Linked DNA regions of Homo sapiens. The protein of the gene in region 2 interacts with the protein of the main gene of each other region in a pairwise test. Each region holds a gene or a part of one and is shown on either strand. Other genes may lie near its edges. The genes, in order: CHIC2 and TUBGCP4.

Region 1 (3,825 bases), on a different chromosome or scaffold from region 2:
ACATCTCCTATCCATCCCTCTCCCCAAAATATATACATAAACCCTCTATCTAAGATGAAAATACAAGAGTAGTCTCCTCACCTCAAAATGAGTTACTCAAATGTGTTATGATTATAAAGAAGTATCAAGTGTCTTTCTCATCATCATACATTAACATGTTTGATGTAGTAAAGATAAAATCTACATTATTTGGTTCATTGAATAAAGCTAGTCTAAGACATTTTAAAAATATTTTTTATGTTCAAGGCTAGAAATAGGATTTGACTGTGGGATAATGAAAGAACAGGAAAATGCTAACAGACAAAAATGATTTTATGATAATTTACAACTAAACACTGTTTTAATCAATATTTTACACATACACACGCACACATCTATGATGGCTATATTGTTTTAAAGAATAGACAAAATTCCTCAGAAATGTTGTAACAGGTACTTCACAAAGGCTCTGAGTTTTATTTTCAACTATTAACTTTTCCTTAGATCTTTTCTTTTAAAGTAATAACCTGGCCATATTTAAAATAAAATATCCAAGCTCAAAAGAGAATTAAAATTCTTAATTTTCTAGAGTATTCTGAAATTTTCAAAAGGAGAAAAACTGTTCAAGTAAATCATGGAGTCAGTAAATTAAATCCCATGCTGAGTAAGTTCTAAAATTCATTGTATATATATGCCAAATTAGATATTTTTTAACAAGTAAACACAAGATGATCAACATCTCATCTCCTGCTTACTTTTAATTTTTACAAAGCAGTATTCTAATAACACTTTAAAAGAGATTCTTTAAAGGGCACTGAGGTACGGGCAGTTAAAATCTATAAAGGGTAAAGGTTTCTTAAGCTCCAATGGCTTGGCTGAAAGGTTTTCTTCCATACTTGGAAACTTGATTAGCATTATATAAAAAAGCCATATCTGACTTGCTGCGTAACCAAAGTTGTGGTTATTCTTTATACAGCATCTAAAATTTCACACTCCATCAACACATGTTCAGGCTATTTTATCTTGGCAATTAATTTATTATTTTTCAGAACACAGTGAAGCCTTGTTTTCAAGTCATTCATAACTTTATAAATCAGTCTTGCACATGAAACCATGCATCTGTGAACCGTAGAAAATCCTTGCACTCAGGAGATTAAGCTCCTGACACCTTTGCTGATTAATAATCATGGAAAGAATAAGATCAGAAGCAAAATAAATGATCATTTAATAGAGAAACTCACAAAACAGCCCTTTAACTTACATATTCCATCATGTTATTCGTTTCACATTTCCTTTTGCTCAGTCTCCAATGCAAGCACAGCTAGACAAGTAGGAAAGTAAAAGAAGAAAAATGAGCTCTATTTTATTGCAGCACACAGACTAACCCATTTGTCCACCTTTCATATTTTTAGTTCAACAAAAGCATCTGTTTCCATACTGTGCAATTCAGACCCCAACAGTACGAAGCTGCTCCCTGTGGTACTCACCTTGTGGTATAACCTATTGTTTTCCCATTCTAATAACTTCTCAATCGATCTTCGTGTCTGGAAGACAAATGAGAAAAAAGTTTACTCTTGACTGGTTTTAGAAAACTTTGTTTTGCAGCTGCTTTTTCTGTGAAAAGGGGAGAGGTATAAGACAGTGACTGAGTATAGTGTGGTGTGCATCACTATCGATGTTCTAAGCACTAAATGGTAACCTGAACACAAAAGAGTACTCTTTCTTAAAAAAGATATGCCTTTATTTTTATCATACGAATCTTTTTTTACTAGCCTCTGATTTAAAACTATCAAGGTTTAAAAAGCTAATGTCATCTGCCAAATAAAATTAAATTCCCACTTCTTTCAAAAATGTTTCCAATACTTAAATAGTAACGGAAGTTCCTTAATACATATTTTAAAACAAAAGTAAATATTAGTTAACAAAATGCAAATGGCCTTTCAGTAAGTTCCAAAACAAAAAATTGGAATATTAAAAAAATCAATGAGTTATAAAATCAAATTAATTTTCACATCATGCTTAAAATAATGCCCATATTTAAAAGCCAGCTTACTGATTATTCTACCAATAGATTTTTTGAACAGAGCCAAAATTTTATTTAAACCAACATAAAAGTGTCATCTGATAGTAAAATCAAACTCTTAATTCAATACTACTGTTTCAGGAATCAACTGAGAATTTACTTCAGTTGATTTTTGCAAGATATGCTATGCTGCATGAAATGTTTCTTGCTTGAGAATATGAATAAAAGAGGGTAATTCATGGTGCCAGGTGTTAGGATGAGACTGACACAGCTGCAGGTGCAAAAATGACAGTGTTGCCACCAGGATCAACTTGCAACTTGGTTCAGCTGCACTTTTCTTGCAAGAGAAAGAAAAAAACATCTTACCACTATTAATGTGGTATAAAGAAGTACTAGTAATCAAATATGAAAATTTGCGTGTCAAGCAAGGATTAGCTAGGTGAAAAACTGTTAGGATCAAGCTGGGTTTGAACAGTTTAATGTTACATAATAAAATTTTAATATGTATTTAAAGTATCTACTTTAAATAGTTACATTACCTTTTAGCATATTAAACATGCTAAAGACACACCAAAGTCACATAGATGCCAATTATAATTCATAACTACCAATGAATTACGACTACTGCCTTACATTTTCCAAGCTTATGTCATAAAAATCGGAAAATCAACTACTTCCCTGGGTAATAATATGCCAATGACTAATTTATTACATTACTTTTTCTGAAGAGTCTTTTTGGCAAGAATTTTAAAGAAAAAAAAGTGCCCTTGTTAACAATGATCAGCAGACCTCACTTGTTTCTTTGTAAAGATAGCCTTTTAGAGGCAGCTCTCCTTTTAAATGAAAATAGGGCAGCAGTTATGGTCACACTTTTTGTTAATTTAGTTGCCAGTCAGCCCCAAATCAAAAGAAAATAAGGCTGCAGAGTGTAATTAACATTCAGTTCGGTCGTTTTGTCCCTTGTCTAGCCCCCAAGCTTTGTTAAAATTGCCATCTGAATGCTGAAGGCTGTAGGGAAATCGATTTGATTCTAATCGCACCATGAAAAGAACATGATCTAACTGCTTTCAGCCCTCCGTAAATCTGTACTAGGTCTTTAGCACAATGCAACTTCCAATTTAAAAAGCACTGAATGTCTCGTCAATGACTTTGTGAAGAAAAAAGAACAAGGAGCAGACATAAAAATTCCAATAGTTGTTTAAGCATTAAAGTTCATTTGCATCACAGCGAACCTGAAAAGGGCTGACCTCTCAAACCGCCTCTCAGGTCTATGAAGTTGTAGCCTTGACAAGCTCACATTGACAGAGCTCATTGACTCTGAAAGGCTACTCTATCAATGGTGAAAAATGGCAATAGGTTCTACTCTGAGCAGGCATCTGCCTGCCCACCCGCTGCTAAACCAATGGCAAAACCGATTCAAAACCTGAATCTACCTTGTAATCTTTCTTTCTAGGGCCTTTTAATAATAGATTAAGATTACTATACAATTTGAGGTTTTACTTTTACTGATGATTTTGGGGGTGGGTGGATGATGAAAGAACTAGAGCAGAACAAGTTTTCCAAGCCCACTGTTTTATATTAATGTATAAAATAGTACCCAAAAGCTTAATACTACATTCTGCAAATACTTATTACTTAAAGAAAAAAATGTAGTTACCACCATCATTTCATCAGAAGTTTAAACCCATGCTATAATAAGAATAGATCTCATTATGATATATAGACACATACATACACACAATTTTAAAACTTAAAAATATTTACTTTAACTTAAATCAACTACTAGTATTTGAATAAAAGATAATTACAAAGTATAAATCTTG
Region 2 (3,825 bases):
TCTCACTGTAATGAAATTTGTCCCTGTTTTGTTGGTTGTTTTCATAGCATCTCTGGAAGTTGATGGTAGAAGAATCCGATTTACTGGGTCAGCTGAAGGTAATGGCTTAGCTGTTGTAATTCTTACGGTGATGCTGGTAGGCAGTGACTTGCATTCTCTGATGTTTCCTGAGAGCACTGGTTGCCTATACCCAGACTTCCAGAGTCAACTCATTTGTTCTTATCCAAGTGAGCAAACTATACCTAATGCCACAAATCTACGATAATACAAAGATTTGGGAGTGTACTTTTTTCTGGCATATATATATAATTATGTTGCTATTGAATAAATAATGCCAAATACACACCAGTCATCCTGCTATGCGGAACTAAGTATGCCTCTTTGAAATGCCAAATGCCTGTATCTTTTGTAGCTTGGGCTCAAATTGATGAAATTAGAAATTACTGTATACATGTAATTCCTCAGGACAGTGAGGAGCTCCTGCCTTGCTTTACTGAATTGTAAATTGAAATTCTTTCCTCAGATCATTAAAGACTTTTACCTTCTGGGACGTGGAGAACTGTTTCAGGCCTTCATTGACACAGCTCAACACATGTTGAAAACACCACCCACTGCAGTAACTGAGCATGGTAATTGTCAGTGGCCCTGAGAATGATCAACTGATTGACATTGCAGGGTATTTCTTGGCTGCTGCTGACCCTTTTAAGGCCTGCTCCACATAAGAGCAGCCTGATGAGTTACAGAGCAGTGGCTTCCAGAGATGGAAGGCTCTTGCAGGTAGGCTTCATGCTGGGGTCATTGGGAACAGTGTCTTGGCCTGTGACCCTTCCTGGAAGAGTTGGTTCAGGCCTTCAAACCAGGTATTTTTTCTCATTGGATTATAGCCATATATACTTTATGGGCCATATTGGGACTTAGTGCTGCTTGTAGTTTTGCAGTAGAATTCTTTAGGTGTGAATGATGGAAACTCACCCGAACTAGCCTAGTTAGGAAAGGGAAATGGATTTGCTATTGTATCTAAAACCCCAGTGGGAAAACTTCGATTCATTCTCTCTCTCTCTCATTCACTCATTCACCACATCTTGTTTGTGTCTCTTGTGAACACTTTGATGACCTTCTGGAAACATGATCACAGCATCTCCCAGGAATATGCCTCACAGTGTCCTCTACGGAAGGAACTGAACCCAGTCCCTCTTGTTGCAAGTTAGAGAATTCTAGGGAATTATCTAGGTTTTGATTGGCCCAGCCCACATCACATCCCTATCCCTGTATCAGTCAAAGAGGTCAGACACTAGGCTATGCCTAGTTCAGTGAAGAGTCTACCCCTTGACCCACTGATGTCCATTCCCATTCATACTGCATGAGTAGAGTTGGGTAAGGATCCAAAAAAAGAAACTGTGAGAAAGAAAATACATACACACAGGCTGATCATTTTTCTAACTCAGTAAAACCATAGATGTCCACTGTACTTATATAGTACAAATATAAGTACTTGTGGTTGCAAATATCAGAAAATCCAATTCAAACTCACTTAAGCAAAGCAAAAGGAAAGAAATAATGTATTGATTCTCATAACTGAAAAGCTCAGACGTATGATGGTTTTCGGCTAAGTTTGATCCAGTGACAGGTGTGGCACCTTTAGGACTTGGTCTCTTTCCATCTTCTACCTCTTTCTTCTCAGACAGGCCTGCTCTGTATGGTAGCAAGATAGTCTCTAGCCAAGTTTACATCCTACTAAGCCCCTGTTTATCTTGAAAAAAGAGCTGGACTCTTTTAGAGTCTGAATAGAGCCTCTGGATTGGCCTGGCTTGGTCATGTTAATATCCCTAAACAATATAGCATAACAAAGTAGAGTATTACATTCCATTTGATCATGCCTACATCACCCAGCTACCCCTAGAATCAGGTGTTGTCTAGCACTAACCCACTGGAAATATGTGAACTGTACTGAATAGGGATGATTCTCCAAGGAAAATCAAGAGGCAGTTTGTCAGCAAGAAGAGAAGGATGGATGGGTGTTAGACAAATGAAACAGATGTCCACTGTGTCCTGCTGTTAGCATTGAGCATGTTGGGGGAGAAGTGGAAAGCTGGAGGAGTCTGGGTTTGTTATGTAGCCAAGCGTCCCTGTCAGCCTGCGTGTTCTTTCTTGCAGATGTGAATGTGGCCTTTCAACAGTCAGCACACAAGGTATTGCTAGATGATGACAACCTTCTCCCTCTGTTGCACTTGACAATCGAGTATCACGGAAAGGAGCACAAAGGTTTGCCATTCCTCCCTGCCACCTTAGAGTTCCTGCTGGTCATCATCCATTTTCCCATCTCTGCTTCCATCCCCCGCCACAGAAACCATATGATTTTGGATCTTAGAAATCAGCTAGTACAGTACTATAATTCTATAGAGAAGAAAAGGAAAGTCCAGAAGTCCAGAGAGGCTAAGTGAGATGCCCAGGCCATGTTTTGGGGGAGTTGGTTTTTTTGGTGTTTTTTTTTGTCATGCTGCTGGAATGGTGCCTGTTTATTTCCAGCCCCCAGATTTTAAGGCTGAGGAAAGAATCTCTAGAAGACCTCCCAAGAGAACCTCACATAGAAGTTTCCTTGCCCCCTTCTTAGTGTCCCCTGTAAGCTTCTGACATCGCAGACTCCATTGAGCTCTGTTGCTTTTCTTTTGGAGACAGAGTCTCACTCTGTTGACCAGGCTGGAGTGCAGTGGCACAATCTTGGCTCACTACAACCTCTGCCTTCCAGGTTCAAACAATTCTCATGCCTCAGCCCCCCTGAGTAGCTGGGACTACAAGTGCGTGCCACCATGCCCAGCTAATTTATGTATTTTTAGTAGAGATGGGGTTTCACTGTATTGCCCAGACTGGTCTTGAACTCCTGTGAGCTCTAGTTTCATTAATGTTATTCACTTGTTGAGTCTCTGGTTCTAGATTAACCAAGTTGTTATCTTTTCTTTTTTTCTTTTCTTTTATCACAGCAGATGCTACTCAGGCAAGAGAAGGGCCTTCTCGGGAAACTTCTCCCCGGGAAGCCCCTGCATCTGGCTGGGCAGCCCTAGGTCTTTCCTACAAAGTACAGTGGCCACTACATATTCTCTTCACCCCAGCTGTCCTGGAAAAGTGAGTATTTCTGAGTTTCTCACAGGTAAATATGACCCACCTTACTTGTAAGGGAAGAAACTAGCAGGAACAGAATTAGTGGGAAAGCAAGGTGTGGTGGCACACACCTGTAATCCCAGCTAGTCCAGAGCCTGAGCAGGAGGATCCCTTAAGCCCAGGATTTCAAATCCATCCTGGGCAACATAGTAAGACCCCCATCTCATAAAAAAAAAAAAAAAAATTAATGGGAGCAAGAGAGCCACCCAACTAGTTTTTAACAATCTGTAAATCAAAAATTGTAAACCCTTATGCCTTCAGGGGCTAGACTGATCACATTAATAAGTGAAGCCACAGATATGAGACACGGAGTTGGAATCAGTGGGAGGGCATATCTACTTCAAACCATCATTTTTTTAAATTGCCAAATAATAAGCAGTTTGTTGGCTGCCAGTTTGTGAGCTCTGGAAAATAAGGTCTTAGGCACCATGTCGAGATAATGGCCCTTGATGATTCCATCACACCTGACAAGGTCTCTCCCTCACTTTTGTAATATTTTTTGTTGATTTACTTGGGAAAGTCCTCCAGCCTACATGTCTGCTATGGATGTTAGCCACTGGGGAGAAGACAAAATCCTGTGTCCTCATTATTCACCTTCAGTAACCAGCAACATTATACTACTTTTATCTGTCCCTCCCCCACTTTTTTGCTAGAGCTGTATAAAGCAAA

What was found.
Region 1: the proteins of TUBGCP4 (region 2) and CHIC2 interact in a two-hybrid assay, tested with the Homo sapiens proteins (one large-scale study listed by BioGRID and IntAct).

The regions. Positions count from the first base shown.
Region 1 is NC_000004.12:54,012,597-54,016,421, forward strand, and holds part of CHIC2 (cysteine-rich hydrophobic domain-containing protein 2), read right to left. Parts: intron 1,524-3,825; coding exon 1,467-1,523; intron 1,301-1,466; coding exon 1,241-1,300; intron 1-1,240.
Region 2 is NC_000015.10:43,395,060-43,398,884, forward strand, and holds part of TUBGCP4 (gamma-tubulin complex component 4), read left to right. Parts: intron 1-47; coding exon 48-98; intron 99-523; coding exon 524-629; intron 630-2,154; coding exon 2,155-2,262; intron 2,263-2,978; coding exon of another isoform or gene 2,979-2,981; coding exon 2,982-3,120; intron 3,121-3,825. UniProt on the Homo sapiens protein: Component of the gamma-tubulin ring complex (gTuRC) which mediates microtubule nucleation.